Regions from separate parts of the Homo sapiens genome. Here region 1 is linked to region 2. The links come from fine-mapping of genetic effects on gene expression. A gene starts in region 2. The other region holds a variant in brackets. All regions are shown on one strand. Distances are between the middles of the regions.

Evidence for each region. PIP is the estimated chance that this variant, and not a neighbour inherited with it, causes the effect.
Region 1: its variant is the best candidate, but not a certain one, in a credible set for the expression of TMCC3 in whole blood (TOPMed, PIP 0.89).

The regions. Positions count from the first base shown.
Region 1 is chr12:94,664,350-94,680,951 of GRCh38, reverse strand. No RefSeq gene overlaps it. Among named protein-coding and RNA genes, the nearest start is that of TMCC3, 22 kb to the right of the region's middle. RefSeq lists enhancers at 4,173-4,282, 4,873-4,982. The variant A/G (reference allele first, on the strand shown) is at 6,904.
Region 2 is chr12:94,644,093-94,660,694 of GRCh38, reverse strand. It overlaps TMCC3 (transmembrane and coiled-coil domain family 3), which reads left to right and starts at 10,138. Exons shown (of 4, transcript NM_020698.4): 1 at 10,138-10,342. The coding sequence starts at 10,265. It overlaps LOC105369914 (a long non-coding RNA gene), which reads right to left and starts at 14,257. Exons shown (of 2, transcript XR_945225.4): 1 at 11,092-14,257; 2 at 9,693-9,790. RefSeq lists silencers at 10,015-10,184, 10,205-10,674, 10,765-10,894 and an enhancer at 9,971-10,686.

The DNA.
Region 1 (16,602 bases), 20 kb before region 2:
TGTAATAATCATCAAATCTCGTGAGATTTACTATCACAAGCACAGCATGGGAAAGACCTGCCCCCATGATTCAGTTATCTCCCACAGGTCCCTCCCACAGCACATAGGAATTTAAGAGGAGATTTGGGTGGGGACACAGCCAAACCATATCACTATATATCTTCTCATTCTTTCTTTCTTTTTTTTTTTTTTGAGATGGATTTTCGCTCTTGTTGCCCAGGCTGGAGTACAGTGGCACAATCTCGGCATCTCGGCTCACTGCAACCTCTGCCTCCTGGGTTCAAGTGATTCTCCTGTCTCAGCCTCCCAAGTAGCTGGGATTACAGGTGCCTGCCACCATGCGCAGCTGATTTTTGTATTTTTAGTAGAGACTAAGGGTTTAGTAGAGACTTAGGGTTTCACCATGTTGGTCAGGCTGGTCTTGAACTCCTGACCTCAGGCAATCCGCCCACCTCAGCCTCCCAAAGTGCTGGGATTATAGGTGTGAGCCACCATGCCTGGCATATCTTCTCATTCTTTATGTTCAGAATTGTTGATCTCTATATTCACTGCTAGCTCTGTAGAGCAGAAAAGAGTAACACTAACCAGTGAATTTTAGTAAAGAATTTTTCAGATGGAAAATGTACTCTCATTAGCTATAAATTGACTAACCAACAACAATAATTAGCATTAGTGAAAAGAGCAATTGTTAAATAATAAGAGCTAACCGTTTTTGAGTGGAGTATAGTGAGCACTTTACATGCATTATCTCACTCTGTCCTCCTAGTCACCTTATGAATGAATGGGTGGTGATATTATCTCTATTATCAGACGAGGACACTGAAGTACAGACATTAAGTATCGTGTCCTAGATCACAAATACTGGGGCAAAGTTGGACTCATTCAGACTGATTCTGTTTAACATTGAGCCCATTTGCTTTTAACCTTTGAGCCATGCTGTCTTATCCTCTCAACAAGAATTTATTATTCTCTGGGAGACTGAAAACCGAGTCTGAAGAAACATTGACTGCAACAAGTGTGCATTTATTATATACTGGAAAAGAAAGCTACCCTGCCCCTGGCTCCGGGACTCACCATTCTAAGAGATCTAGCTGATATGCACAGAGACAGGCTTGTATGTCTCAGGTACCTGTTATCCAAATTAGGACACAATGGTGCCCATATCCTGTGGGGCCCCTCAGTGCTTCCAGAGCATTCCAGGGGTCAGATTTCTCCTGCTTCCTGGGTCTTGGATCCTTGACTTTGTGAGGCCATTTTAGTTGCTGCTCTTGACCCATCCTAAAGGTCAGAGCTGGGTTAAAGATAAAATAGCATACCTGGAAGAATCAGCCATAGCAACCTGTCTCTAAGTGCACTTTTGCTCCAATTCCAGTGACCACTTAGGCCAAGCCATGAGTTCATATAATGGGATATCTGAAGATATATGACCTCAGAAATTCACAGAGCAGATGGGACCCTTGCACAAATCATTACAGTATAAGGCAACGTGTAGTAGAGTGTGGGAGCTCTGGTGTCCAACTGCCTGACCAAGTCCAGTGTCGCCACTGCCCTTTTAGAGATAGTACTTAACCTTTCTCAATCATGGCTTTCTCACCTATAACTAGGAATAGTAGTAGGATTAAATGAAATAAAATGTATCAAGTGCTTCATAGGATTCCCATCCCATAGTATGTGTTCAATAAGTAGCTCTTATTATTGCTGTAAACAAAATATTATTTGTGGCAAGAAGAAGGAGATACTGCTCCTAGCAATCAGAGAAGTCTTCTTTGAGGAGGAGCATTTGATCTGGGCCCAGATGGGAGGAATTTCTGTGAGAGAGGAGGGATTATTCTATGCAGCAGCGGAACCATAACCTGCAAAAGCACAAAGGGAGAGGCAAGGCACGTGCAGGGCGCGGTGAGTGAGGCAGAATGACTGCAGGGCAGAGGGTGCGGGAGTGCAGGAGGGTAGGTGGGAAAGACTGGTCAGAGGGCGTTTGTGGAAGGTCTCAGAGGCTGGTGAGCATCATGTTAATCTCCTAGTCCATCCCTCAGGTTTGAGAGCTGAATACCCACTAAATAAGAATTGCACTGTCTTTTTTTTATTCTTTTTGCATTTATAATACTTACGATCCTAGCCAGGGCTGACTTGGAGGCAAGAATAATTCCCTGGCAGTTTTAGGAAGCTGCATGAATTACACATTCCTGGTTATGTGGACTCTCAACTTTTTGTAAACGGTAAGTGTATTACCAAAGGTGTATGATTCCTTGTGCAGCCACCCCCACGGCCCCCATCCCACCCCACCCAACCCCCGCCCTGCTGGCCATTCCTAGCTACAACCACAGAAGCCAACGCAGCCCAGAAGACAGTGCTGATTTGGGTGTTCCTGTCATTGGGCAGCCCTAGACTCCAGGCCTAGGGCGCGGCGGGGGTGGGGTGGGGGCAGGAGGGAGGGCAAGAGGAGGAAGGAAAGCCAGTCTCTTTTTGCAGATAGAGAAGAGGGTGCCCAGAAGAATTGTGCTGAGCTGGTGATTTGAGCTGTTATCTGCTTGGATGTACGATTGATTCACTCCTACTCCGAGGTTCTCAGAGCCCAGAATGTTCCATAAGTGAAACAATTGATGCATTCGGTCTCTGTGGCACTTAATCCACCACTCCTACCCCCATTTTAATATTTGTAATAGTGATCAGTGAAGGGCAGGACTTGAATGTTTTAGAACTAAAACGGGATAAAAAGTAAAGTCCTAATAATGGTTCTCTTCTGTCTTTGTCCCTCTAATTAGAGAAGGCCATATCCATGTCTCCATAGGAAATGGACAGTTAGGGAATTGGTACCGGGCTGGAGTCATGTGTAATCTTGCCCTGCCTGAGGGAGGCCTGATGTTGGAAGTATTTAAGAGAGTCTGAAAGCTTGGCTGCTCTAATAATTAGACTGGCTGTACTGGTTTTTCTTTGCTTATTAAATCACAGGCCAGAAACACCTCTGTGGCAGGACCTGTGTACTGAATTGGTATGCTGTGAGATCCAGAGCAAACTGAAAGTATGTCACACTTTGAGCATTTTCACAGACCAGTCATGGCCACAAGTTTAGGCCTGGCTTAACCTGATTCACTGGAAATCAGCTTCAACAGCACCAGCTGTAATGAAAAGTAAATATGCAGGTGTTTGTTGTTATATATCTGGCATTGTTAAGCTATCACTGAATTTTTTAAAAATCTTGAATCAGTTGGTGAATGTACATGTATCCAAACAGCTTGCTTCCAGACTGTGTACAATATCTTCTTTCTTTTTTTGAGACAGAGTCTCCCCTGTTGCCCAGGCTGGAGTGTAGGGGTGCCATCACGGCTCACTGCAGCCTCAACCTCCCAGGCTCAGGTGATCCCCCCACCCCAGTCTCCCGAGCAGCTGGGACTACAGGTGCACACCACCATGCCTGGCTAGTTTTTGTATATTTTGTAGAGATGGGGTTTCACCATGTTGCCCAGGCTGGTATCGAACTCCTGGGCTCAGGCGATCTGCCTCGGCCTCCCAAAGTGCTGGGATTACAGGTGTGAGCCATTGTACCTAGCCCATAAGTATCTTTTAATGCTTACCTTCAATTATGATAGATATTGGGAATACCTTGCATTTGTATAAAGCGTTTTTACTGGCTGATTTCAGTTGTTTGAAATCATGCATCCTCTGTCAATCTTCTGGCTGATTCAGTTGTTTGATTCTGCCCAGAACCAAGTGTGGCATAATAAATATTAGCTCCTTGATCCACAGAGGATGCTGACCCTGAATTGAGTGACTTATACAAGATGACAAAGCTAGACAGTGGCTGGCCGGAAAGAGCAGCCCACTAGGTCATCTGCTTTTGGGTTCAGTGTTGGGGTTTCTCCACCACATTGTGACAGAATAGTCTGGCTTGACTGGTTTTTTCTAAAGCACTGATTTTTCAGCTTCCCAAGAAAACCAGAGTAGATCCTCTTTTTGTTTATTTTGTTGACCCAGTTATACACCTTCTGTTCTATAGCTTTTCCCATCTTCTAGGATATGGGACGCAAATTTTATGCATAGCCAATGATTTTTTAAACCAAACTCATAAGCAAAATCTGAATTTCCTTGGAGCAGGAAGCAGAGAAAACAAATACCTTCTCTGTGCTGATTGCTCACATAGACATGCTAACCCACACTCTGCAAAGGGGTTGAGTTTTAGAAATTTAAATTACTTTGTTGTCACCTAAAATAAAACCTTCCCTAGACACTCCCCCAGCACTCTCTTTTTTAGTTTTTATTTTTGAGACAAGCTTTCGCCATGTGGGCCAGGCTGGTCTGGAACTCCTGGCCTCAAGTTATCCACCCACCTCAGCCTCCCAAAGTGTTGGGATTACAGGCGTGAGCCACCGTGCCCAGCCCCTCTGCCCTCCCTTCAACTATAGCCTTATCTTCCTCCTTGTCTGCTTTGCAGGCCAACCCTGGAGAGAGTTGGCTAACTTCCTGTCCTTATTTTCTCATCTCCCTCTTGTTTCTCACTCTTCTTCCGGCTGGACACTGGCCAGGTTTTTGTTAAGGTCACCGGTGGTCTCCACATGACTCAGTTCAGTGGACTTGAGTTTTTCAGACTCAATTTATTTCTCTTAGGGGATTTAGTACACACTGTGACCTTGGGAAATTTACTTCTCTAAATTATTTGCAAAATGGGCGTAGCACCTTCCTCCTCAGATTGTAGCGAGGTCTAAATGACATAGTTTGTGGGAAGTGGTGAGCATAGTGTCTGCTACAGTGAGAAGTACATGCTAACCACTGCTTTTATCAACACACTTCCCCTGGTTCCGGTGACACTGTATTTTCTTGTTTTCCTCCTATGCCTTTGGCCCCTTCTACTCCTCTGTGTTATCATGAAAGGAAATGAAATGCGTCTGCGGCAACAGGACTCTGGATGTGAGTCCCTGGATGTGAGGTGTTAAAGGAGGGACACTCCCAAGAGAAGTCTTAAGCAACTAAGTGGTGGTGCCATTTGCTGAAAGGTGGGATCCTAGAGGAGCCAGAGGGGCATGGAGGAAGGCGGGCACACTTGAACATACTGAGCCATCCATGTGTAGATGAACTGGATGGATGGGTGAGTAAGGCTGGAGGTCAGAAGAGACATAGGAGCAAGAGGCTCCATGGCCGGGCAGGTGGCTCACGCCTGTAATCCCAGCACTTTGGGAGGCTGAGGTGGGCGGATCGTCCGAGGTCAGGAGTTCAAGACCAGTCTGGCCAACATAGTGAAACCTTGTCTCTATTGAAAATACAAAAATTACACTTTGGGAGGCTGAGGCGGGTGGATCGCCTGAGGTCAGGAGTTCGAGGCTAGCCTGGCCAACATGGTGAAACCCCGTCCCTACTAAAAATACAAAAATTAGCTGGGCATGGTGGCGCAAGCCTGTAATCCCAGTTACTCGGGAGGCTGAGGCAGGAGAATCGCTTGAACCCGGGAGGCGGAGGTTGCAGTGAGCCGAGATCGTGCCATTGCAATCCAGCCTGGGCTACAAGAGCGAAACTCCATCTCAAAAAAAACAAAAAACAAAAAAACAAAAATTAGGTGTCGTGGCATGCGCCTGTAGTCCCAGCTACTTGGGAGGCTGAGGCAGGAGAATCAGTCGCTTGAACCTGGGAGGCAGAAGTTGCAGTGAGGCGAGATTGCTCCACTGCACTCCAACCTGGGCAACAGAGTGGGACTCCATCTAAAAAAAAAAAAAAAAAAAAAAAAGCCAGCAGTGGTCTGGGAGAGAAAGCAAGATGGGAAGGGAACGGTCTGGGACAGATGCAGAGAAACGTTGAACTGTTTCAATAGCCTCCTGATCAGCCTCCCGGCTTCCACCCTGGCCCCCCCATAAAAAGTCCTTACTCTGCCAGAAAATGCCACAGGATCTGCGCTGCTGTTCTTCTAACCCCAGGCTGCTTCTCTGACCTCATCTCCACCCTCCCCGCTCTCCTGCTCGGCTCACTCTGCTCCACCCATGCTGGTTTTCTTGCTGTTGTTCCTCAAATGGATCAAGTGCTCCCCTTCCTTGGAGCTTTTGCACTTGCTGGTCCTTTTGCCTAGAATGGTCTTTTTCTAGATATTCTACATGTATCACCCCCTCACTTCCTTCAGTTCTCTAGTTAGGTGTCCCAGCCTATCCATGAGAACTTCCCAAAACATATTATTCAGAAATGCAACACTCATCTATCCCCTTTTCTCTGCTTTCTAAAATTTACTAGCATCTGATATGATCTATATCTACCTGACATATTTTGTTATATTGCATAATATGGTATTATATACTATGTTTCTATATGTGACACATGTAATAATGATAAATATATATACTAATATACCATAATATATATTATACCATCCCTATATATTCTAATCTGCTATATTATACAGTAATTTTTAAAATTTCCCACCTCCAAATATAACTCCATGAAGCCAGCAACCTAATTGTGTTCACTGCTATATCCTTGGAGCCAAGAACATTTCCTGGCATGAAATATACACTTGCTAATATCTGTGGAATTAAGAAATTCCAACATTTCATGATAGCAAAAAAAAAAAATCAACTTTTATCTCCCCCAGGGTTGCCATTTGAAGCTGCAAGTACATTATGCAGAGTTGGTTGCTGTGGTACCAATATGTTTTACATTTTGTATAGTAATGTTCATGAAATGAAGGATGGGTTTCCAATTTCCATTAGTGCAGGATGCACTCGAGTCCTGCCAAAAGTTTCTTCCCTTTTGAAATGCCTTATCTCCAGCTTAAAAACTTCAACTTCCTTTTTTAAGACCCAGCTCCCTTTCTCAGGAAATGTGTGTTTCTACTAGGATACAAATGGGATTTATGATGCTGAGGGAAGTCGATTTGATTTGCTGAATATACCCTTGACAATTGAGAGAAGGTTATCTGAAATTAAAAAA[A/G]AATAATAACCCAGTTTGCCAGTATGCCACTCTGGATTACAGAACGGCATCAAGGTTATTGTGCTTGGAACGTTTTTGTTTTTCTCTTTTAAAAATATTGCCTAATTATGGACAGGAGGATATAAAAACAAAAGAAGCTCACATTCTCTTCCCCATTTCCAGTCTACTGAGGATGACCCCACGGTAGACTTAGATTTTCTCAGTGATTCAGAAGAAAATTGAGTATTGTTAAGGAAAAACAGCCTTAACCTGAGACTCTAAAATTGTGCTGTAAGTGTGAGCAGAGGGACACAGAAAGTCTGCTGATGAATGTCACCTGCTGTCTTTTGAAAACCAATGTATGCCACGGGACTCCTATGAATAGTAAATAGTACATGGCCTTTGAGCTGTTTTTATGTCAGTGGTAATAGGTCACACTCTTACTTAATTGCTCGTGCAGTTCAGAATTACCATATGGGGGTTAAGGATGCCCTTTGTGTCCACTGCATTTTGGGTTAATAGGTGTGAAGCATTAGGCCTCATAGCCCTGTGGTCCACCTGTGTTTGGCAGCGAGTTTAGCTGTGGGTGAGTAATTAATTACCTAACTATATAAAATAACTATAATTTTTTTCTCTCTGCTAAGTAAAACTATTTCTAACGAATAGCTTCACAGAAATTGAATACCAGTGCACAAGGTTCTAAGAAGCTTTTACATCTGAATATGCTTGATAATGTCTTAAAGGTGCATTCTATACATCCTTGTATGTATTTCTTCCTTTACCTGGGAAACGTTAGATAATAAAAAGGCTTGGTTTCGGGTGTCAGGTGGTCTTGAGTTTGAATCACTTACTAGCTGACTGATTCTTGTACCTTTTCATGTCTCTCACCGTGAACACTGGGGATGGACGTATGAGATACACTCCGTGAATTTCCTATTCGGGTAAGACATGGTAAAGAGGACTGCCCTACATTTTCATTTAAATAATTGCATTCAAAATAGAAAGGCTCAAAGGATGAGGGAATTTTTTCCATTAATGATTAATTAAGGTCAAACAGCTAGGCTTTCACTTGATTTACACCTAAATATGTATTAATTCATATTTTCTTAAGTAAATGTCAGTTATGCTGCCAAAACAGAAACCAATAACAATTCAGAGATTGAATACTAGAAAATAAACCTAGGGTTTGGAGAAGCTATTGAATCTAACTTTATCTAATGCCATTATAAATATCAGTTTTAAACTCAATAATATAACTTGGTTCTGTTTAGGGAACAGTGTAGGGAAATGGAAAAGGGTTGGTCTGGGGTATCAGACAGACTTGGGTTTAAATCACTTACTGTGAATGACAGCGGGCCACTGTCCTAACCTGTCTCCGTCTCAGCCTTGCTAGCCTGAGTTTGTGACAAGGATGCTGGCTGCAAGGTGTGTGTTTGTGAAGCCACAAAGATGAGAACCTGGCCACCCAGCAGGTGCCCACACGAACTGCAGAGTCTCTTCTCCCTCTTCTACTGCCTATTCCTTCAGCTCTGCTACCAAGTAGCAAGCCATTTTACATATCTGTGCCTCAAGTTTCCTCATCTGAAAAAGAAGGCTGAACCACACACCTTGTTCTGAAAAGTTCTACAGTCTAGGCTTTAAAAGTATAAATGCTTAAAAAAAAAAAGTTTCCTACTTAAAAATTGATACCATACTTGGATGTGTAGATGAAAATATCTACAGACCATGAACCATTCTGTTATTTATACTAAAGATAAATTCTTCTGAGAGCAAGTTAATTGGAAAATCCAGAAACCATTAACAATTTCTTGCACTCACCTTAAAAGAGCAATGAAATTCCATATCCTACAGTCTTGAAATGAGTAAATGGAAGGATGTAAATATTTATTGGAATGAGAGTGGAGCAGAGAGAAGCTCGGCTTTGTCTACTGGTGGGTGGTAACACATCTATGGATCATTGTTTGCACTAAGCATTTAATAATCCCATCTGTTGAAAATGTATAATTGGAGGTACTTTGAAATTGCTATAAGCTACCTAGAAATTGGCAAGAAAGTAATGCTGGAAAGATTCCAAACTCTGCAGCCAACCAAGAAATCCAATATAAATCAATATGTAATTATAAAACCACATCTTTGGCCACAGCTCTTTAAATATATTTATTTAGGCATGATACAGACTTTTAACACCAGAATCTGGAACTGGAGAGTCCTTTGCAAGCCTCAGGTTTGAATCTTTGGGGATACTGTTTATTTGACCTGCAAAACCCACAGACAAAGGCAGAACTTTCTGCCCCCAGCTGCTATGGTACTGTCTCCACTGATAACTCCACGTTCTCACTTGTCTCCCAAGTCCTTTAAGTTAGATTATATCTCATTTCAAAACTGAATCACTTGGTCTTATTAAAAACTTTATACTTCTTTTTCCTTCCTGGTACCTCTTTTCATACCAGAAATTCACTTGGTTGGGCCTGCCCTGGCTTCTCATTCAGAGAAGCATCTTTGCAGTACATTCCTACCTCTCAGGAGTTTGTGTGTATTTTTCACACTGAACTTCTTTCTTTAAAAATCTCCATTCACTGCCTTCCTTTGTTCCCTCATCTCCTCTGTTCCTCTCCCCACACTCTCCCTTTCTATTCATATATCACAGGCTGTGCACATATACTTTATGCAGAGAAATGGCATATTGAGAATTGTAGCTGTTCTTAAGAAAAGAAGACTGCATACTAGGAAGAGCTGTTAAAGACATTCTATGGGTCATTACCTCTTTAGTTATCTCTTTGGATGGAAATTTTTATGTAGCTCTATCTCTATGCAAAATTAAAGTAGGGGTTTAAGAAAGTACCTAATCAAAATGAGCAGATTTCAACAAAGGAAATCAGGGCTTTATTTTCCCAGGAATGTGGAGTTTCTTTGTAGGTTTCAAGATCCCTACTCTCTCATTCCCCAGCTGCTATTCCCCCTTATCTCCAGGCACAGCTGCTTCCATACATTTGCCAAGTTCATCATCGCATGAGTGGTGTCAGGGACTGAACTGTGCCCCTGTAACATTGGTATGTTGAAGCCCTAGACCCTAGTACTTCAGAATGTGACTGCATTTGGAGATAGGACCCTTAAAGAGGTAATGAAGTTAGAGCAACGCCATTAGGCTGGGTTCTGATCTATCTGATGTCCCTGTAAGAGGAGGAAACCAGCCAGGCATGGTGGCTCACGCCTCTGTAATCCACCTGGGCGGATCACCTGAGGTTAAGAGTTCCAGACCAGCCTGGGCAACATGGTGAAAACCCATCTCTACTAAAAATACAAAAATTAGCCGGGCGTGGTGGCATGAGCCTGTAATCCGAGCTACTCAGGAGGCTGAGGCACGAGAATCGCTTGAACCCGGGAGGCGGAGGTTGCAGTGAGCCAAGGTTGTGCCACTGCACTCCAGCCTGGGTCACAGAGTGAGACTCCTTCTCAAAAAACAAAACAAAACAAAACAAAACAAAAAAAACCGAAGAAGTGGAAACCTGGACACACTGAGAGACACCAGGGATGACCATGTGAGGACACAGCAAGAAGGCAGCTGTCTGCAAACCAAAGGGAGAGGCCTCAGAGAAACCAACCCTGCTGGCACCTTGGTCTTAGACTTCTAGCCTCTGGAACTGTGAGAAAATAAACTTCTGTTGTTTAAGCCCCCGAGTCTGTGGTATTTTGCTATGGCAGCCTGAGCAAAGTAATACAAATAGTTATAGCAATATCACATTTCTGTTATGAGATCGCCGCAGCATCAAACAGGAGAATCCAAGAAGGAGACCTAGAAAAACAGGTGAAACCACTTTCAAGCAGGAAATAAACTCTCTGGAGAGATGATCTAGCACGTGTGTGAAACATGTTCTAGGTGTATGACGTCTTTGGAACATTTTTTCCCCATCAAAGCCCAGTTTTGGGATTTTGACCTCCTTTGAAGTCAGGGAAAAATTTGGACCACAGGTTCAGGCATACGGAAGTGTAAGGAAACTATGTGGCATTCAGAGAGCTGTGTTCATGCTGATGTTGAATGCTAGGAATGTCTGATGCATGGGGTTACGCTGAGAATTAACCCGCTTCGATCCGGGTGAATTAAGATAAAGCCAAGCTGCGCTCGGTTAACAGCCCAGATGGAGATGAGTGGAGAGGTGCTGTTAACAGCACCAGAGCAGTCATTGTTTGGCTGGATTTTGGTTTCAGCTTTATAGAGTTAGCTTCAAAGAAGTCTTTAGAAGTACTTTGCACAGTCATGGAGTCCCTCTGTATATTTGATGGCCTCCAGCTCCATTCTAAAAGTGTGACCTTTATAAAGCCATAAGGGACTTTTGCTTGATTCAGTACTTTAAAGAAGGAAAAAAATGTGTTTTTGTACCCTGTGGTGTAGGCCTCTTCAAGATAGTTTCTTAAAAATCATTTGTTCCTTTTATTGTTCTTAATTTATTCCTATTTATTGATCAAGTAGGAACAATGGATATCAATGTATAATTTATGTATTATACAGTCCATCTAGAATTCCCAATGAATTATCAATAATAGAAAATGTGGGCTGGGCACAGTGACTCACGCCTGTAATCCCAGCACTTTGGGAGGCTGAGGCGGGCAGATCAGTTGAGATCGGGAGTTTTAGACCAGCTTGGGCAACATGGTGAAACCCCCGTCTCTACAAAAAATACAAAAATTAGCTGGGGGTGGCAGTGTGCACCTGTAATACAAAAATTAGCCGGGCATGGTGGTGGGCACCTGTAATCCCAGCTACTCAGGAGGCTGAGGCAGGAGAATCGCTTGAACCCCGGAGGTGGAGGTTGCAATGAGCAGAGATTGCTCTACTGCCCTCCAGCCTGGGCAACAGAGTGAGGCTCCGTCTCAAAAAAAGCAAAACAAGCAAAAACAGCAACAGCAAAAAAACCAAGAATGTTCTGAGATGAAACAATTGCACCTGCATTTTAAATTTTGGTTTGGTATTCAGGGATCTACTGCAGTTTCACTCTTTTCAATATGAACTACCAATTATTTCCTTTCCACATTGATTTCTGATGCCACCTCCATCCTAGATTGTGCTTTCATATGTGCATGAGCCTGTTTCTGAGCTCTCTCTTCCTGGGTCTCTGTGCCAATTCCTAATCACCTGAACTATTGCCAATAAAATGTCTGGCTACCTGGTAGGGAGAGCTCACTCTGTCTGCCCCTACTCCCCATATTTTTCCCCCAAGTTGTATTTTTTCATCCATTGAATTTTATTTTTCATTTTGTTTGCTTATTATTTTTGAGACAAGGTCTCGGTCTGTCACCCAGGCTGGAGTGCAGTGGCCCGATCTTGGCTCACTGCAACCTCCACCTCCTGGGCTCAAGCGATCCTCCCACCTCAGCCTCCCCAAGTAGCTGGGACTACAGGCGTGCAGTGCCACCATGCCCACATGCCCAGCTTTTTTTTTTTTTTTTCGTAGAGATGGATTTAGCCATGTTGCCGAGGATGGTCTGTAACTCTTGGTCTCAAGCAATCCAATAATCTTGGCCTCCCAACGGGCTGAGATTACAGGCATGAGCCACCACGCCTGGCCCCTCTTACGCTGATTTTTTTTTTTTTTTTTTTTTTTTTAATGAGGCAGGGTCTTGCTCTGTCGCCCAGGCTAGAGTGCAGTGGCATGATCTCGGCTCACTGAAAAGTAGCTGGGACTACAGGCGCGTGCCACCACACCCAGTTAACTTTTTTGTATTTTTGGTAGAGACAGGGTTTCACCATGTTGGCCAGGCTGGTCTCCAACTCCTGGCCTCAAGCGATCCACCTGCCTTGGCCTCCCAAAGTGCTGGGATTATAGGCGTGAGCCACTGTGCCTGGCCTCTTCCATCAAATTTTAAAATAAGCTTGTCAAGTTTTTGGAAAAATCCTTTTTTACTGGATTGTGTTTCATTTATTGATTGACTTTTAGGGAAAACTGACATTTGTTTGATACTGCATCTTTTCCTCCATGAGTATGACCTTAATATTAGTTTTAGGCTTGCTTTTATAGAAAAACGAATGTTTAAAAAATATTAGTACACACTGTATTTAAATCCTCAAACATTTATGGAAGGATTTCCAATATAACAACCATGCTGGGGACTGATGGATTTTTAGAATGAGCAAGTAAGTCCTCTATTTTAAAAAGATTACAGTCTACTAAAGGGAGGCGTGGTAGACGTACGTACAATTTACTTCACATAAATTAGACTGTGGTAAGTATGATGCTAAAGCTATACATAAGATGCTACCAGGGAAGGAGGATTAATTTAAACCTGAGAGATCCCTTGGGATCCCTCCCAGAGCCATGTATAGTACTAGTATTTGTATGTTTAGCTCATGTTTGGCTCATTTTATATAATGAGATGTGAAGAATACTTGTCAGTCTCTGTGTTTTGACATTTTGATAATTAAACATGGGCTCTGTGATTCATATTGACATGTAGTCAGTATAGAATATTTATGAGATATTTTACCTTCTTTTGTTTGTACTGTCTTTAAGGTGTAAATTAATTAAAATTAAGTAAGATTTAAAACTCAGTTCCTCAGTCACAATAGGTACATTTCGAGTCCTCGGTGCGCTCATGTGACCAGCATCTACTGTATTCAGTATGCAGATTCAGACAATCATTTATTGTACACTTCATCTTGATATCTAAATGAGGGAAAATATTTAAAGCATAGTAGTTTAAATAGGTCCTGGGCTGGGGTTTTATGAATAATCCATATTCTAATCATCTGTCTTCTAATTGGTTATATGTAAAACATTCTGACATTTTTGGATTGTGGAAAGTACGATTCCCTTTGTAAAAGGATTAGAGGTAAACAATGGACAATGGGAAAAGCCCCATCTCAGTAGAGCTTTATCCAGAGAATGGTTTTGCAATCGTGAGTGTCAAGAAGCAGCAATGAAATTTATGGATTTTCTGTCTCTTTCATTGAAGCAGAAATTCAAAATAGAGCTCTATAAATTGGTCAGCATCTTCTTGGATCTTGTATTTGTTTTTTCCGTTACCTCAGTTCCTTTTAGCAATTGAAAAGGAAGCTTGTTGTTGTTGTAAACTCCAAATGACCAAATCCTGCTAATGTTCTGAAAAACCTACATGTTATATTCTTGATTTCCTGATAACTTTTTTTTTTTTTTTTTTTTTTTTTGAGACAGGGTCTTGTTCTGTCACCTAGGCTGGAGTGTAGTGGCGCCATCTCAGCTCACTGCAGCTTTGACCTCCAGGGCCCAAGCCATCCTCCCACCCCAGCCTCCCGAGTAGCTGGGACTACAGGCGCGAGCCACCATGTCCGGCTAACTTTTTGTATTTTTCTGGAGAGATGGGGTTTTGCCATGTTGCCCAGGCTGGTCTTGAACTCCTGGGCTGAAGTGATCCGCCTGCGTTGGCCGAAGTGATCCGCCTGCCTTGGCCTCCCAGAGAGCTAGGATTACAGGTGTGAGCCACTGTACCTGGCCCCTGATAACTTCTACTAATTCCTTTGTATGTGTGTGTACATGCATGTTAGTGGGTGTACTTGCCTGCTGGGTATCCTACACTCCATGGTATTATATTACATACTTTAAATCTTGTGCCTTGTATAGCATTCTTCTCCTTTTGTGAAAGATATTCCTTCTAATGGAAGAAAATCAATAGAATGTCAGAAATATTAACTGGGAGTGCATCAGCCACAGCTGATGTAGGAAGAAGCAGTGAGAAATAACAGAACTATAGAATACCTTTCAAAACTGTCAGCTAGGACAGTGAGGACTTCTAAATACTCGCAGGAAATTGAACCTTCACTTCCAACGTGATAGGAGAATTGACTTCTAATTTTGTGAAACTTGACATGCAAAACTGAAAATCTAGAAGTGCTTAGAAATGATGGAAAAGATTTACAAGGAGCCTTCAGATAAAGGGTAAAGTCATGATGATATAATTTTGAATTTCAAAAGCTTCGTTTTCTTTCTTCATGGGAAGAACAGGAAACAAGAGGCTTAGAATGTAGAAATCATCTTCATGGGAATATTAGTAATAGTGGATGTGTGTTAAACTGTTATGGAGAAGCAGGGAAAGGCTGGACAGGGAATGAGGACAAGTCAGGCTCATTTAAGTTAAATGTTTTGAGAGGGAACCTGCAACAGTGTACTCTGCAGATGCACTGAGATTCTTCCCTGTTCATATTCTCAGCAGTGCCAGCCTTGACTTTTAGTCAAGAGATAGTTATCGTTTAATGGGTATAATTTTTAGAATTCCATCTGCAATTCCATTCTACAATTGCAATTCTACAATTGCAAATTCCATTCTACAATTGAGGAAACTGAGGCTTATAAAGATTAAAGAGCTCATCCAAGGATATGCACCTAGTAAATAAGCTTAGACCTGGAATTTGGACAATAATTTTGCCATTTATTAGCTGAGTACCTTTGGTCAAATCACTTGATCTATTCAGATGTCCTGGTTGCTACTCCGGATATTGGGAAAATCATAGCACCTTCCATCATAGAGATGGGGGGGCAAGAGTTTGGCAGTAACTCAGTTGATGTATTGACAGTGTCTGGTGCAGAAGACGTAGGCAAAATAAATAACTATTGCAATTTACTGGCTCTGTGCAAAGTCCTATAGAGATGCTATAGGAAGACACAGAAGAAATGGAGAAAGATGTTTCTCTTACTCTTCAGTAGCAAAATATTTTGGACTTCTGTTGACCATTTTGCCCTGAATATTTTCCGGGGGTGGGGTGGGACAGAAGATATCGACATTTGTGATACTTTGCATGGGGCATTTTGTTAGGCTCTGTAGCAGTCAGTATTAGGTTTGATACACATAACAGAAAAACCCTACTTTGCAAAATGAGTTAAGATAACAGGCTCCCTGTTAGCATTTTCACATGGAACATTTGATTTTTGGCAACAAATGACTGACCTTAATTGTGAAATAACTGTACAACAATTTCTTTATCCATTCTGTTGTGGAATGACAATTGGGTTGTTTCTAGATAGGGACTGTTACCACTGTGAATGTTCTTGTACGTGTGTCCTGGTTGATGTGTGGCCTCCGGGATAGATATATACTGAGGAATGGAGTGGCTGGGCATGAGGGTTCCTGCTACTCCAGATCATTACCAGCACTAAGTATCATAATACTTTTCTATTTTTGTCAGTCTTGTAGAGTTATACTGATTTTTTATTATAATTTTTTTTTTTTTTTTTGAGACAGAGTCTCGCTCTGTCACCCAGGCTAGAGTGCAGTGGTGCAATCTCCTCTCACTGCAAGCTCCGCCTCCCAGGTTCACGCCATTCTCCTGCCTCAGCCTCCCAAGTAGCTGGGACTACAGGTGCCTGCCACCATGCCCGACTAATTTTTTTGTATTTTTAGTAGAGATGGGGTTTCACCATGTTAGCTGGGATGGTCTCGATCTCCTGAGCTTGTGATCCGCCCACCGCAGTCTCCCAAAGTGCTGGGATTACAGGCGTGAGCCACCATGCCCGGCCTGTTATAATTTTTATAATATCATTACAGAAACATTTCTTCATATGATTACATATTCTTCCTAAGTATAATTGTCAATAGCTGCACTGCATTTTTTATGAATATATCATAATTTATATAATCAGTCCATGATTTTTCATAATAAATAATCCTTTGAATTGTTTTAATTTTTTCAGAATGACAAAATGTGTGATGTTTGTGTGTAAAAGTTTTTCTGTATTTTCCTGTATTATTTCTTTT
Region 2 (16,602 bases):
TTGGCAATTACGAATAAAGCTGCTATGAATATTTGTGTATAGGTTTCTGTTTGAACATGTTTTCTTTCTGGGATAAATGCCTGAGAGTGCAGTTGCTGGGTCAGATGGGAGATTTGCATGTTTTAGTTTTATAAAAAACTGTCAAACTGCTTTCCAGAGAGGCTGAACCATTTTACATTCCTACCAGCAATGTATGATTTATGTAGTTTCTCCACATCCTTGCCAGCAATATGTGTTATAACTCGTTTTTATTGTAGCCATTCTGATAAGTGAGCAGTAACATCTCATTGTGGTTTTAATTTGCATTTCCCTAATAGCTAATGACATTTAACATCTTTTCATGTGTTTATTTGCCATTAGTATATTCTCTTCAGTGAAATGTCTGTTCCTATGTTTTGCTCATTTTTAAATTGGATTTATTTTTATTTTTATTGTTATTTGAGATGGAGTCTTGCTCTGTCTCCCAGGCTGGAGTACAGTGCCGCCATCTCGGCTCACTGCAATCTCCGCCTCCCGGGTTCAAGTGATTCTCCTGCCTAGGCCTCGCAAGCAGCTGAGATTACAGGCACCCGCCACCACGCCCCACTAATTTTTTTTGTATTTTTAGTAGAGACGGGGCTTCACCATATGGGCCAGGCTGATTTTGAACTCCTGATCTCAAGTGATCTGCCACCTTGGCCTCCCAAAGTGCTAGGATTGCACATATGAGCCACTGCGCCGGGCCAAGGATTGTTTATTTTTTACTATAGAGTTTTGAGAATTCTTTATACATTCTAGGTACTCATCACTTGTTATATGTTTGGTTTTGTAAATATTTTCTTCCCATCTGTATCTTGTCTTTTTATCCTCTTATCAGAGTTTTTTGAGAAGCAAAAGCGTTTACTTTTGATGAAGTAAAATACATTTTTGTACTTCTTTATGTAGCCTCAAGTCTGCAGGCAAGGCACATGTTGAAGACCATCTCCCAGGACACTTGAAGGCAGCCTGGAGAATTTTCTCATTGCTCTTGAGAAATCAATAGCATGGAATTGTTGCATTTGCTAAAAAAAGGAATATTCAAAGGCAAGTTCCCTAGCCTGCAGAGTTTCAATTGAGTCTGTCTACTTTCCTGTTTTTAATCAAAATCTTGCCAAGTGGAAGTTTCGGGCTTCTGTGCCAGATAATTGCTAATACTAAATAAGTAGCAGTGATTGTTTATTTGCAGTCACATAGAACATGGTATGTTAGAAATTAAATGTAGATGTTAAGAGTGTGGTCATTTTTAGTTGGCTATAAACCAGGTAGTTAGAATTAGAGATCCATGTTTGCATCAGGCCAGAAAGCTGCTGATCCGCAACATAAGCATTTCTATCTATCTATCTGTAATATAGATATGTAGAGCTGATCAGCATGTGTTCACCTCAAGCTAGAAGAATACATTTTAAAAACCTGATTTATTCTTCCTTTTGCTCTGTTCTTATATCCTTGCAGAGGGAAGCTTGTTGTACTTTTTGTCTTATGACTCTTTCCCCCAAAGGGAACACTTCCCTGCACTATTAAATCAAACTGGAATATGAAAAGAAATACATTTTCCTTTCCTTTACAAGAGGCTTGTACTTTTGTTTTCAACATCTGGCTTTCCTTGTCTCTCCTTCTCCCTGCTGTGATGACCATAGGACTGAAACATCTAAGGAAGTGAGCTGCATGAGGAGACCACCTCCTTCCTTTGTCCTACTACCATGCCAAGCACATAACTATCCTGGCATCTACAGCAACGTTTTTGGAGGTGTCTGCCTCACTGTCTAGATGGGCTGTCCCTTCTGGATGTCTTACTCATTTCTATATTCTCAGCACCAAGAGCAGAGGCTGTCACACCAAAGGTGCTCAATAAATGACGGGAGAATTCACAAATGTCATTAACTACTTAGTAGCTGAAAATTGGTAACATCCATCATTCAGTGAATTTTCATCCTTTCCTATTACCCATTCCAACCCCTTAGGAACAGACACTAGTTTTTGCTTATGTCGGAGTCATTTTTTAAAACCCCAATGCCTAGGAAATAAGTAGACATTTAATAATGTTGATCTCATTCACTCAGCAAACATTTATTGAATACTATGTTAAGAACTGTCCAGAATACCTACATGTACCTGGAAAGTACAGTCCTTTCCTTCAGGTAACCTATACTCTAGTGTGTGTAGGGGGGAAGCATAGAAATTATCACATGAAATATTTAAAGAATATAATGTATTATAACCTTTGTATTGAAATAATTAGTCCAGACTGTAAATAGTTGAGCAGTTCACAGGTAATCTGGTGTGGACTGACCACAGAAGACTCAAGCTAGTGGCCTGAGAAAACTCTAGAGTCCTTGGTGCCCCCACTAGAATCCTCTGTTGATTCTCCCTTTATTTGTGCTGTTCAAAGTTCTTGCCTTCTCTTGAAATGCTGCCCTTTTCCTTGTCTTCTTTCTGCCCATACCCTGCATTGAATGTTGCATCAGACAGGATTCTTTGGGTTGCAGGAGTCAGAAACCCCATCTCTAACGGGCTTGAGCAAAAAGAGGAATCCATTGCTTCATATCACTGAAAAGGTGGTCTAGGCAAGGCTGGTGTGGTGGATTGGCTGCCAAAATGGCAGTCAGCAATTTCTCCCATCTATGTGCACATCACTCCTTCCCTCAACAGGTAGACCCCGTTTCTCCTCCCCTGGAGTCTGAGCTGGACTTTTGACTTGCCTTGACCAGTAGAATGTGATGGAAGTGATAATCTGCCAGTTCTAGGCTAGGCCTTAGGAGATTTGGCAGCTTTTGTTTTTGCTGTGTTAGAAGGCAGCCACCATGTAAAAAAATCCAACTACCCTGATGGAGAGATGAGAGACTATAAAAAAAAGTATTTAAAAAAGTATAAACAGGCCGGCTACAGTGGCTCATGCCTATAATCCCAGCTTTGGGAGGCTGAGGTGGGAGAGGCCAGGAGTTAAGATCAGCCTAGGCACACAGCAAGACCCTGTCGCTACAAAAAATAGACAGGCGTGCTGATGCACCTGTAGTCCCAGCTACTCAGGAGAATGAGGTGGCAGGATAGCTTGAATCTGGGTGTTTGAGGCTGCCGTGAGCTATGGTCATGCCATCACACTCCAGCCCAGGTGACAGAGTAAGATAAAAAGTTTTTTAAAAAACTATAAACATATAAAAATAAAGACAGAGGCCCGGCCAGCCCCCACCATTCCAGCCACCCTAAGTCTTATAGGTGCTGACACGTTGTTTGTAGAAAAATCAACTCAAACTATGTTTTTCCTCTGTTCTCACACTACAAAAACAATAAACACAGAAGACTTCTGTGACCAAATATGGGAGAGGGGTTTCCCCACACACCAAGCAAGCAATCAGTTCTGGACACCAGCTGGGTGTCCTCCACCTCTACCTGGAGATAGCGTCAGACCCCACAGTTTGAAGGCAGAGTCCCCAAGACTGCCCTTCAAATGCCAGTCACAAGCCCAGGCCTTCAGAACTTCGGGCCAACCGGCTTCATGTTGGGGTTCCCATGACCCCCTCTTTGGGTTTGATTAATTTGCTAGAGCAGCACACAGAACTCAGGGAACCTTATATTTTACATTTACCGGTTTAGTATAAAGGATATCAGAAAGGATACAGATGAAGAGATGCATGGGACGAGGTAGGGGAAGGAGCGCAGGGCTTCTGTGTCTTCCCTGAGTACACCACCCTCCATAGATGTCCAGCTATCCAGAAGCCCCCTGAACCCTGTACTCTTCGGCCTTTTATGGAGACGTCACTGGGTGGGCATGATTGACAACCATGTAGAAATGTGACTGGACAAAAGGGTATATGATCTAGTACTAAGAGACTGAGTGGCGAGACCCAGCAAGGCCTGTCTGTTCAGATTCTTCTTGGCTTCTCTGTGCAGCATTCTTTCCTCCAGGGTATGGAGCAGGACCCCTTCTAAAATGAACCTTATGTCCTACAGTCAGACAAGGTAGGTCAGAGAATTTCTTCATGGCCAGCTGCATGACAGAAAGGCGGGGGAAGATTCCTTCCTTCAGGAGAGAAAAGAGCAGCTGGAACAAGGGTAGGATAAGGCTTCTGAGGCTGGCTTCTGGGATCTAAAGTGCCCCAAAATCATGACAAGAGACTATTACAGGGGCATTGGTAATTATAAGCCAGGAACCATGGGTGAAAACCAATGTATATATATATATAATAATGTCACTCATATGAATGAAGCCATCTTGGACACCCTACCCCCCCCCCCCCAGTGCCACATGGAACAGAGAAAAGCCACCTCACCTCCCTTGGAGGCCTGCCCAGATTGCAGAATCATGAGCTAATGAGAGGTAGTTATTGTTGTAAGCCAACACCTTTTTTTTTTTTTTTTTTGAGATGGAGTCTCGCTCTGTCATCCAGGCTAGAGTACAGTGGCGTGATCTTGGCTCACTGCAACCTCCGCCTCCCGGGTTCAAGCAATTCTCCTGCCTCAGCCTCCTGAGTAGCTGGGATTACAGGTGCCCATTACCACTCCCAGCTAATTTTTGTATTTTTAGTAGAGATGGGGTTTCACCATGTTGGTCAGGCTGGTCTCGAACTCCTGACCTCAGGTGATCCACTCACCTCTGCCTCACAAAGTGCTGGGATTACAGGCGTGAGCCACTGCACCTGGCCAAGCCAAAGCATTTTAAGGTGGTTTGTCATGCAGCGATAGCAGATGGAAAATGCTGGATCTAGTGCTCTAAGGATTTAGTAAGAAGTCTTTCTCCGTTTCATGGCTCTGCTTTCCCAGGGAGGCTGTCTTTATATGGTGGAAGGATGTCCACTACAGCATCAGGCTTGCATTGTACCAGCTTAGCAATGCCCACTGGAAGGGCATAGGCTTTCCCAGCAGTTCTGACAAAAGTCTGGGGATGACTCTCATCTGCTCTGATTAGCTCATGTGCCCATCCCTGCACAAGCCACAGTGACTCTGACTGGCCAAGGCTGGATGACATGCCACTCTCTAGATCCAAGGATGGGAATGGTCCACCTTATCTAAGCCATTTGGATTAAAAGTAGGAGTAGGGTAGGTCCCAATAGAAAACCTAGGTACTGTCTTCAGAATAAGGGGTGGGATCCTGGGCAGGCTGAAACAACAAACACGCACTACAAAAGTCAAGTGTAGTCCTACCTCTTTCCATAGGCCTTTCACTCCAAACTTTAAACTATTACAGCTCAAATGACCTGGTCTCTTCTTTGGTGCTTTTAGCATCTGCTGTCTTGTTGTGCTCCTTCCTTATAGTTTGCAAGTAAATTCTTATTTCACACCTTAGGTATGAACCTTTGTATTTCTTATTGTTCTGACTGCATTTGTTATTTTAACAGTGCGATATTTTCCATACTTTCTGCAGAGAGAGGCTCTTGGAGGTATCAAAAGCACAGAATTCTTACATTGACAGGAGGAATTTGCACCTGCGCTCTCCCTCTCTCTCTCTCTCCAGGGCTGACAAAACCCTAGGCATTGGCATTGCGTCCAAAGGAGGGGATGTGGTCTATTTTCCCCTTGGGTTCTGCCTCCCAAAAGGAGACCCAGATGGTGATCAGCACTGCTTGTTTTCTTTCTGTTCTGGGGAGCTTGCTCTTCTGCTATTTAATTTGTATATTTTTAAAAAATAATTTTGTATGAGTGCCCAGCAGAGCAGCTTTTGGGCAACTAGCTTATGAAATAAATTTAAATGATCTAAAAAAGAACATCCTTTGTTAATTGACATTTAAATGAGCCTAATAAAGTTTTAATTTATCCTTCTCATTGAGGGTCAGCATTCCAGGATGGAATTCTAAGAAACATCAAGACAGTAATAGAAATGGAAAGTAGATGCCTGTTGGTACCCCCAAGCAAAGCCCAACCCTGGTTTGTCAGGGCCTCTCTGAGTTTATTCACACGTAAAGTGCTATTATGTTTATTTATTTGAGAAGGTACCCCTAACTGGTGATTTGAATTCCAGAATTAAGGATATCACCATATCTGTTCCTTTGAGACTCTGTTACCTTTAAAATTTTAAATTATTCTTCACTATTGTGTGTATGTATGAATGAATGTACATCCAGTGTACCAACAGTCATTTGTTAAAGAGCATTATATATTTATAATTGTGTACCCCTTTTCTATTGAAGCCTTCTTCATCTCCCCACCAGAGATACTGTCCTGAAATTTGTGTTTATTATCCTCTTGCTTTTCTTAAACTTTACAGGAAGGCTGGGCGTGGTGGCTCACGCCTGCAATCCAGCACTTTGGGAGGGTGAGGCGGGTGGATCACTTGAACTTGAGGCAAGGAGTTCAAGACCAGCCTGGCCAACATGGTGAAACCCCATGTCTACTAAAAACACAAAAATTAGCCGGGCATGGTGGTGCACACCTGCAATCCAGATACTCAGGAGGCCGAGGCATGAGAATCACTTTAACTTGGGAGCCAGAGGTTGTAGTGAGCTGTGATCGTGCCACTGCACTCCAGCCTGGGCGACAGAGTGAGACTCTGTCTCAAAACCAAAAACAAACAAACAAAAAAACCAACCAAACAAAAACTTTACATGAATCTTTTTTTTTTTTTTTTTGTGGAGACAAGGTCTCACTATATTGCCCAGGCTGGTCTCGAACTCCTGGGCTCAAGTGATCCTCCCACCTCAGCCTCCTAAAGTGCTGGGATTATAGACATGAGCTACCACACAGCCTACATGAATCTTACTGCAAGTAATTTTTTGTGGCTTGCTTTTTTTGTTTCTCAGTATTGTTTGTGAAATTTGTCCATATTGATTTTTTTTTTTAGCTGGAGTTTGGTCTGTGGCTTATTTTTTTACTTTATTGTTTATTTTCATAAGCAGAAGTTTAATTTTTTTAATGTCAAACCTTTGTGGTTTATGCTTTTTGTGTCTTGTTTTTTTTTTTACTTGAGATGATAATAATGATATTCTTTCATTTTCTTCTGACAATTTTAAGTTGTGTTTTTTCCACTTTAAGTCTTTAATCTGTTTTTTTTTTTTAATTTTTAATTTTTTTAGAGACAGGTCTTGCTCTGTTGCCCAGGCTGAATTCCTGGCCTCAAGTGAACCTCTTGCTTCAGCCTCCTGAACAGCTGGGATTACAGGTGCAAGCCACCATGTCCAGCTAATTTTTTTTCTTTATTTTTCCTTTATCTGGTATTGGTTTTTGTTTATGCTGTGAGGTAGAGATCAATTTTATTTTCATCCAAGTGAAAAGGTAGATCATGCCACTCCTTTGCTCAAAAATTTCCAAATCTTCCCATATTCCCCAAAATTAAAGTTCTTTCTTTTCTTTTTTTTTTTTCTTTGAGTCAGAGTTTTGCTTTTGTTGCCCAGGCTGGAGTGCAATGGCATGATCTTGGCTCACTACAACCTCTGCCTCCTGAGTTCAAGCGATTCTCCTGTCTCAGACTCCTGAGTAGCTGGGATTACAGGCATGCGCCACCATGTCCGGCTAATTTTGTATTTTTGGTAGAAACAGATTTTCTCCATGTTGGTCAGGCTGATCTTGAACTGCTGACCTCAGGTGATCGGCCCACCTCAGCCTCCTGAAGTGCTGGGATTACAGGCGTGAGCCACCACGCCCTGCCTAAAATTAAAGTTCTTAAAATAGAATGAAAGTCCATATATGATCTGGCCCTCTGAAATGTCTCTGACCTCATCTCTTTCCAGTGAACACTGGCCTCCTTGCTCTTCCTTGAACACTCCCGAAATGTTCAGGGCCCTTGACTTTCTGTTTGTCTGCTGGAAATTTTCAATGTCTATACTTCTGGCTTCCTCATTTCCCAAGTCTCTGCTCAAGGTCACCTTATCATGGAGGACTTCTCTAGCCACCCTAGCTAAAATCTCCCTCCAACACACACACACACACACACACACACACACACACACCCCAGCGTTTGGTATTTCTCTTCTTTCAAAGAACTTACCTGAAAAACTCTCTGGGTCTAGTATAGTTGTGTGTTGGGGTAGTGGTAGATGGGTATTTTTAAAAGTGTTGATTTAATTTTTTGAATGGCTTAAGGACTACATGGGACTTTCAATTTCTTCTTAAGTTAGTTTTAACCCTTTCTCTACAAAAAAATATATTTTTAAAATTAGCCAGAAATGGTGGCACACACCTGTAGTTCTAGCTACTTGGGAAACTGAAGTGGGAGGATCCCTTGAGACCAAGAATTTGAGGCTGCAGTGAGCTATGATTGTGCCACTGCACCCCAGCCTGGGCAACAGATACCCTATCTCTAAAAAACATTTTTTAAAAAATTTTACTTTCTGAATAGTTAATATATGCCCACAGTATAAACATTCAAGTTTCAAAAGTATACACAGTGAAAATTAGATCTCTCTCCATCTCTGCCTTCTAGCTACCTGGTTCCCCTCTCTTGGCATCAATTTCTTGTCTGTTTCCCTAGTTTCTTATTTATCCTCCCAGATATATGTCGTGCATGTAGAAGCACATAACATATATTGTTTTTACATAAATGGTGGAATGCCATATATATTATCCTGCACATTGCTTTTTTTCCACTGAACCATGTATGTTAGATTTGCTTCCAAAGCTATTCATAGAGGGCTGCCTCATTTCTATTCCAGTTACCTAATATTCTATTGGATGATGTACCATCATTTATTTACTTAGTCTCCTTCTGAAGGATAATTAGGCTATTCTGTCTTTACAGTGGCCTTCTAAGAAGCCAGTGTGTTTTGCCCATCTTCAATCGCTGCTTCACCCTGATGTCAGATATACCTTCTCCTTAAACTTCCATTCCCATGCTATCATTTCCCTGTTCAAGAATTTCCAACAGCTACCCAGTTCCCACAGAATAAGGCTGAACTTCTTACCCTTGAACGAAGATTCTGCATGGTCTCTGCCTTCTTTTCCATCATGTCTTCCTGTTCCTGAGGACACTCCCCAAAACTGATGACTTGAGGTTTTCCCAAATGTACCTCTGATTTTAGGGGCTCCAAAGTTTTCTTCAGCCTGCTCTACCGTCCCCTTTGAACCCTATGAGGGAAATCCTTCCCTCCCCCTGGACTGGTCACACTGGGCTCCAGGTCCTCTCTGGAACAGCTGCACTTTAAATATTTCAGCCCAGTCTCCCACTGTACACCCTACAGAGCCAGAACAGGTGTTTTGAATTTTGTTTGGGGTTACTGATATTTAAATTGTTCACCAATGGTCCTTCCTCTTCTAAACTCCAAATTCCTTGTGGGCAGGGACTGATGACTGGGAATGGGGAATACTAAAATGAAAAGATATCCTGACTTCCAAGTAGCTTAAAACATAAAGGTAAGCTGGGCACAGTGGCTCACGCCTGTAATCCCAGCACTTTGGGAGGCTAGGGCAGGTGGATCACGAGGTCGGGAGATCGAGACCATCCTGGCTAACATGGTGAAATCCCGTCTCTACTAAAAATACAAAAAAATTTAGCTGGGTGTGGTGGCAGGCGCCTGTAGTCCCAGCTACTTGGGAGGCTGAGGCAGGAGAATGGCGTGAACCCGGGAGGCGGAGCTTGCAGTGAGCCGAGATTGCGCCACTGCACTCCAGCCTGGGTGACAGAGCGAGACTCAGTCTCAAAAAAAAAAAAAAAAGAAAGAAACATAAAGGTGAGCCAGATATGCAAAATTAAAATACACAACACAGTAGGATCTTAGTTTAAGTGGAAGTATGCTCTATGCTCAGGGCAATCATGGTCGGGGGGAGTTTTTATTTTATTTCATTTTTTTACTTTAAATCTCTGGTCTCTAGTCCAGCGTCTGGTACATGGCAGCTGCCCAGTAAGTGCCTGTTGAATGGAGAATAACATAAAAAGAGGCATTTAAGGCAAGTGTCAACTTCTTGCAGTAACAGTCACCTTTTATATATAAAATAAGTCAACAGATAGTGTAGTGTGGATGTCGCTTATCTTTTGGGGAGAAAGAGGGCTGTGTGGGAGGGGATGGAATCAACTTTCAGCCAGGGAGGGAGGCGAAGACATTGCCTCCCGGGTCGGGGGTGGGTGGGGGGTCCAGGCGGCTGCGGGGCGCGGGAGAGGCGGGGAGAAGGGAAGGGGGAGGAGACTCTCGCCTCCTGCCCCGCCTCCCCCACCCCGCGGCGGCGGCGGCGCAGGGCGGCCGCGCGGGTGTTGGCACCAGAGGCAACAGCTGCAGCAGCCGCGCCGCCCCCTCGCCCGCGGCTCCCAGGGTGATCCCGAGCACAGCCGGTGGCTCGCGGCGCGGCAGCCCCAGAAGACGGGAAAGTTCGCGGCCGGAGCGCGGAGATGCCGGGCAGCGACACGGCGCTCACCGTGGACCGGACCTACTCGTACCCCGGCCGGCACCACCGCTGCAAGAGCCGGGTGAGCGCAGCGGGCTGGGGGGCGGCGGGTGCGCGCGGGCCCGGGGGCGAGGCGGGCTGGGGCGGCGGCTCAGTGCTAACCCACGCGCCCCCGGCGTTTCGCCGCCGCCCTCCGCTGCCGCCGGAGGTCCGTGCCTCCCCGATCCTCCGAGCTAAAAGGGTGGGCGTCGGGGGCGTCGGAGCCCAGGCTGCGGTTCTGGGATCCCAGGTCCGCCTGCCCCTCACGGCGCCCAGGTCCCCGCGCGCTATGCGGGACGCCCGGTTCCCCGACGGCCCGCGCTCTGCTGTCCTCCCCGCCAGGGAGCGCCCGCCGCTCCGCGAGGGAATCCCGCCACCCGGCCACCCGCGGCCCCGCGTCTCCAGGTCTCCGGGGTCTCGCCCTGGGTGTGACGGTGCCCTCCCCGCCGAACGTCCCGGCGGCCGCCCTGTCTCCCTGTCCTCGGGGCGTGTGGCCGGAACCCGAGCGCGGTGCGCAGCCGGAGCGCGGGGAGGCGGCGGACGGGCTCTGCCCAAGTGAAAAGTCAGAATCTTTGCGCTGCCTCTCCGGAGTTTCGAGCCGAGCCGAGCAGGCGCCCTCGCCATTGTTTGCAGTGTAATTTGCTGTTGCTGATTTTGGCTGTGGGCGAAAATAGCTCATTCTGAGCCTGCTGCAGAGACGAGCCCTGTAGGGCTTCAAAATAAAGACGGAGGCCGCAGCCCAAGCGCGGGTCTGTCCTGGGAGAGGAAGCCTTCGCCCTCCCCGGTGAATACCTTTGCCCTCCCGGGCTGTTGAATCGTCGAGGCTGGATGTGAGGCTCTGTAACCCGTTCTCCCCAGGGCTGATTGAAGTGCCATTTAACAAAGCACCTCCTCCACGCTGGCATCTGTTCTGGCAGGAGGCACCTGGAGTTGTTCTTTGCTCCGCCAACTACTTACTCGCTTGTCCGAGAACTGGGGATTTGGGTGTCAGCCTCTGTGTAAAGTTCACGGAGGGAGAGCCGGGCTCAGATTCTGGCCTGCCACTTCCAAGATCGAGAGACCAACTGGATGGAAATAGTAGCAATAGTGACGGGGTTGTGTCGCGGCCCTTTGTGCAGGATTTTGGTCTTCACTCATAATTTGAAGTAGTAATCGATTGCCCCAGAAGTGAAGCAATGAGTCTCTGGTTTATTTGCCCGCTTTCCCTTTTTCCTTTAGCATCTGTTAATCATTTTGGAAGGATGATTTGAGTTTTTACAGATTGAATATATTTGGTGGAATAATACCTCATGCACTCATCTCAATCTTACAATTCTCTTGTTTTTGCACTTTGTGTATAAGTTTCGTAACAGTTTGCTGTGAAAATAACCAGAAACTCCATTTGGAATAAACATTGAAGAAATGTGCTTACCCACAGGTAGACATTTCTTCTTGGATAGCTGTAATGCTAGTTAACAGAACTATGAAGAAAAGGAGATCATCTTCGAATGCATTTGTAATTGAGAGGATTCTGTAAAGTTAATATTGCAGACTTGAAATGTGAAAGCTTGTTTTTTCTTGTCACAACTGTGATCTTCTTTGTGTAAACAAGATTAGTAATCTTAGCGGGATGGATGGCTCATTGTCAACTCATTTAAGTGGTTTGGCAAAACTCATGCAACTTTACAAAACTCACTCTTCATAACCTGTAAAATGGTGGTGATAAAGTTTGTGCCTCAACTGCTTAGGTGGAATGTGGTAAAGCAATTGTGTAAGGTAACTGCAGAGTGTTTCTGCCGCATCTGCCACTGTTGCCTGTCTACGCCAGTCTTTTCTATTAAAAGGTCAAAACCTTATGTGATTTCTTGATTTTCTTTAAAATTCTGCTGACGGGCCGGGGGCGGTGGCTCATGCCTGTAATCCCACCACTTTGAGAGGCCGAGATAGGTGGATCACCAGGTCAGGAGTTCAAGACCAGCCTGGCCGAGATGGTGAAACCCTGTCTCTACTAAAAATACAAAAATTAGCCGGGCGTGGTGGTGGGCGCCTGTAATCCCAGCTACTCGGGAGGGTGAGGCGGAGAATCACTTGAACCCGGGAGGCGGAGGTTGCAGTGAACCGAGATCGCGTCAGCCTGGGCACAGAGCGAGACTCTGTCTTTAAATAAATAAATAAATAAATAAATAAATAAATAAAACAATTCTACTGACAATGTTATTGTACCTGCTGCCTTGTATTGTTAGCATGGAGATACCCGATTTTTAAATAAGCTGTGTATTAAAACTGAGTTAGACATTATATGTGCGGATTATCGTAAATTAGCACATTGGGCCAGTCAGATCTAGTGAAGAGAGGAAATCAGAGAAGGGCTAGAACTTCAGCAGACCGTAATCACAAATTCTACTACAGTGATGCTGGACTTCTTGAGGTCCCAGTTGAAACTTCTCAGCTATCTGCTTTTAGGTTTTTTATTGTTGAGACAGCGAGGAATAGGTAGAACTAGTGAAATTTTTGTAAACTCATAATAATAACTTTTCTCAAGCAGGGTTGATGTAATTTCAAGTCTGTCCTGAGGCTACAATAAGTCTGTTGTAATGAAGGGAAAGCAACAATTTTACTGTGCAGAAAGTATTCATCCATTTAAATGATCGTAGCTCCTGTATTGTGGAACTCACTTGGATGCAGCTGTAAAGATATGTTTTCCTGACACCCAGAACGTATGTGATGCGAGAGGAAGACATCGAGTGCTAATTTCTTGATGTCACCATCTCCTTGGGAGGAAACTAGTATAGGATTTAAAAAGAACCCTTTTATGAACTCATTTGGTGAATTAGCTCCCCTAAAAATGCCAATGAGAACTAGGGGGTCATGGGAAGAGTCGACTAATCTTTCAGGGATATGGAGTTTCTGCCTAGAAGTGGGCAAAGACTCCATGAGATGAAGTTCTTAGTTACTGAATGGTCATTTTTTAAATTCAAAATCAATACCTGTTGAGATAACAGGGAAACTACATGGTCTGTCTTGCTGGGCTTATTTCAGCCTTTGAGACTGGAATAATAATGAGGCAGTGTACTCTTTCAACATTGCAGAAATCTATTTTTACATCTAGGTGGACTGACCTAGATAACCCCTCCCCCCTTAGTGAAAATGTAAGTAATGAATTCTGTGATTGTTGCTAAGCTGACAAGTCAGGATCATTCACATTTTAAAACTTCATCTTTGTAAAACTCAGAAATGGTGCTTGTTAACTTGATGCACATATCTCTCTACTTTAGAAGAAAGAGCATCCATAATTAGACTCCTACTTTTTTTTCATGCCCTAGATAGTTAAAGCCTATCATCTTTTTAAGAATACAGGCCGTCTGCTTTCTATACAGTAACTGGCTTTTATTAATGATGTGTGAATTAGGTTTTCTTTTAGTTGGTTTTCATTTTAAGTGTTCTAAAATGCCCTCTCCAGCCACTTGAGTATAGTGGTGGACAGCTGGGGCTCTGGACCTACGTGGGTTGTATTCTGGCTCTTCGAGCTTCTTAACTGGGTGACCACTGGGGCAAGGTCCTAAATAGCCTTTCTGAGCCTCCAGTTTCCCATCTGTAAAAGAGGTAATACTCCACTCTTCTGGGAGTGATTGTGTGTCTTAAATAAGAAAGTATTTGTTTTTTAAAAAAAAAAAAAAAAGCCAGGCACGGTGGCTCACGCCTGTAATCCCAGGACTTTGGGAGGCCGAGGCAGGTGGATCACCTGAGGTCAGGAGTTCAAGACCAACCTGGCCAACATGTTGAAACCCTGTCTCTACTAAAAATACAAAAATTAACCAGGCATGGTGGCAGGTGCCTGTAATCCCAGCTACTCGGAAGGCTGAGGCAGGAGAATCTCTTGAACCCGGGAGGCGGAGATTGCAGAGAGCTGAGATCGTGCCATTGCACTCCAGCCTGGGGGACAAGAGTGAGACTTCCTCTCAAAAAAAAAAAAAAAAAAAAAAAAGGTGTGTGCTTTCAAATATTAGCTATTTAAAAAAATTTTTTTAAATTTATGTTCTCTCACTGGGTGAAAAAGCTGTATTTGTCTATATGTCAGGTTAATAATTTTTTTCTATTTTGTTGGTGCCACTACTAATCAGAACTGCTAGTCATCTTGAGTGCCTGCCCTCCCCCATCTCTCTAACCTATTAGCAATACCACCGCACCTTTCTCTGACATTTCTCTGGAATTGGTTTCTTCCATATCTCCCAATCATCCCCCACCTTAGTCACTTATGACCTTCACCAACTTCTGTTCCATCCTGCATGCAAGGACCATATTATTTTCCCTACAGAACCATTTGCATTAGGATAGTCCCCAGAATACAGATCTTGTACCAGTGCTGTTTGCTACCAGTGTAATCTTGGATCCTGTAATCACTCTAAGCCTTAGTTCCTACTTCTACATAATAGGGGTGTTTTGAGGAATAAATTCAGTAATGTCTATAAAATGTTTAACTCCATGCCGGGTGCACAATAAGAAATCAATAGATGTTAACCACTTTTACTATAGGCCGAGCATCTCAATCCAAAAGCCAAAATCCAAAACTTTTTGAGCGTCAACATGACGCTCAAAGGAAATGCTTACAGGAGCATTTCTGATTTCAGATATTTCTATTTGGAATGCTCAACCAGTAAGTATAATACAAAGATTCCTAGGCCGGGCATGGTGGCTCATGCCTGTAATTCTAACACTTTGGGAAGCCAGGTGGGTAGATCACTTGAGTTCAGGAGTTTGAGACCAGCTTGGCCAACATGGTAAAATCCGGTCTCTACTAAAAATACAAAAAAATTAGCTCGGCATGGTGGCAGGTGCCTGTAATCCCAGCTACTAGGGAGGCTGAGGCAGGAGAATCGCTTGAACCTGGGAGGCAGAGGTTGCAGTGAGCCAGGATTGTGCCATTGCACTCCAGCCTGGGCAACAGAGGGAGACTCCATCTCCGAAACAAAACTAAACAAAACAAATTCCAAAATCTGAAATCTGAAACACTTCTAGTTCCAAGCATTTTGAATAGGGGACCTGTACTATATGAAAGAGGGATTTGTGAGCTTAGAAACGGAAAGGCTGCTAATTTTGTGAAAAGTATAGACTTTTCTAGCATTGCTAGCATTTTGTGCCTCCTTGCGTCATGTTTCTCATGACATTGACTGTTTATATGTTTAATGCTTACATGTATTTATAAACTATAGACATTGGCACTTTGAGAGCAAGATGCTTCGTTTATTCAAAAAATACTTACTGAGCACCTTCTGTGTGCTGGCTGCTGATCTAGGCATCAGGAATACAATGGTAAATGAAACAGTCTGGTCTCTGTGGAAACTTAATATCTGGTGGGTGTATCTCATTTATTCTTGTGGTTCCGGACAATACCCCTGTCTTGTACAGGAGAACATGATGATAATACATGCAGAAATCTCTAACATCTGAAGTAAAACTTGTGTCAAGCGTGAGTGCCACCTGTAGTATATCTTCAAGTGTTCTGTGGTTTGGAAATCCATCTACAATTACATGATGAGTAATGACCAAAGGCAGTGAAGAAGAGGATGCTGTAGCCCTTCTCACAGTGGAACTGGTTGGGCAGTGATGTAGTAAGTTGATGATCACATGCTTACTCCCTGGGCAGGAAATAGGGGGAGTGGAAACTGACCTCTGTCCTGGAGGACACTGACCCGGTGAAGTGGTAAGTTGAGTAGTACACAGATATCGTTTTCACCGGTGATTTGTTTTGTTCTAAAGAGCCTCTTAAAGAGAATGAATAATGGTGAGTGTCTCAAGCCAGGTTTTTCTTACATTTAGGATGAGCAAAGTGATGCGGTGTGTGTTTTTCGAGCTGTACTTTGTTGCAGGCTTTTCCTTTAGAGGAGAAGGAACTGCCGGCCACCACCAGCTCACCCGCCTGTCACATCCGCTGTAGAGATCACCAAGACAGCTGCTACCAAGTTGGATCTCAGGGTGTATTTTGCTTCAGACCCTCTGCCGGCATCTCCAGGACTGCTGCTAAGGTCAGAAATCAACCTAGTCCTACTTGGAAAATGCCCGCAGCTTGACTTAGAAGAGTCTGCAGCTTTCAGCCCTGTGGTTTCTTAATTGTGTTTTCATGTTTTCAGTGGAGGGGAGGAGGGTGACAAGAGAAGAGGAAGAGAACCATGAATCACTGTACTGTGAATCAGAATGAGGACTTTTCATTCCTTCGAAAGAGAACATCAGGATATATGATTTGTGCATAGGCCAACTGCTTCCGTCGACTTGGGAGGGGTGCTGCCTGAAAGGAACCATAGTATATTTGTGGATTATTCCTCTGTA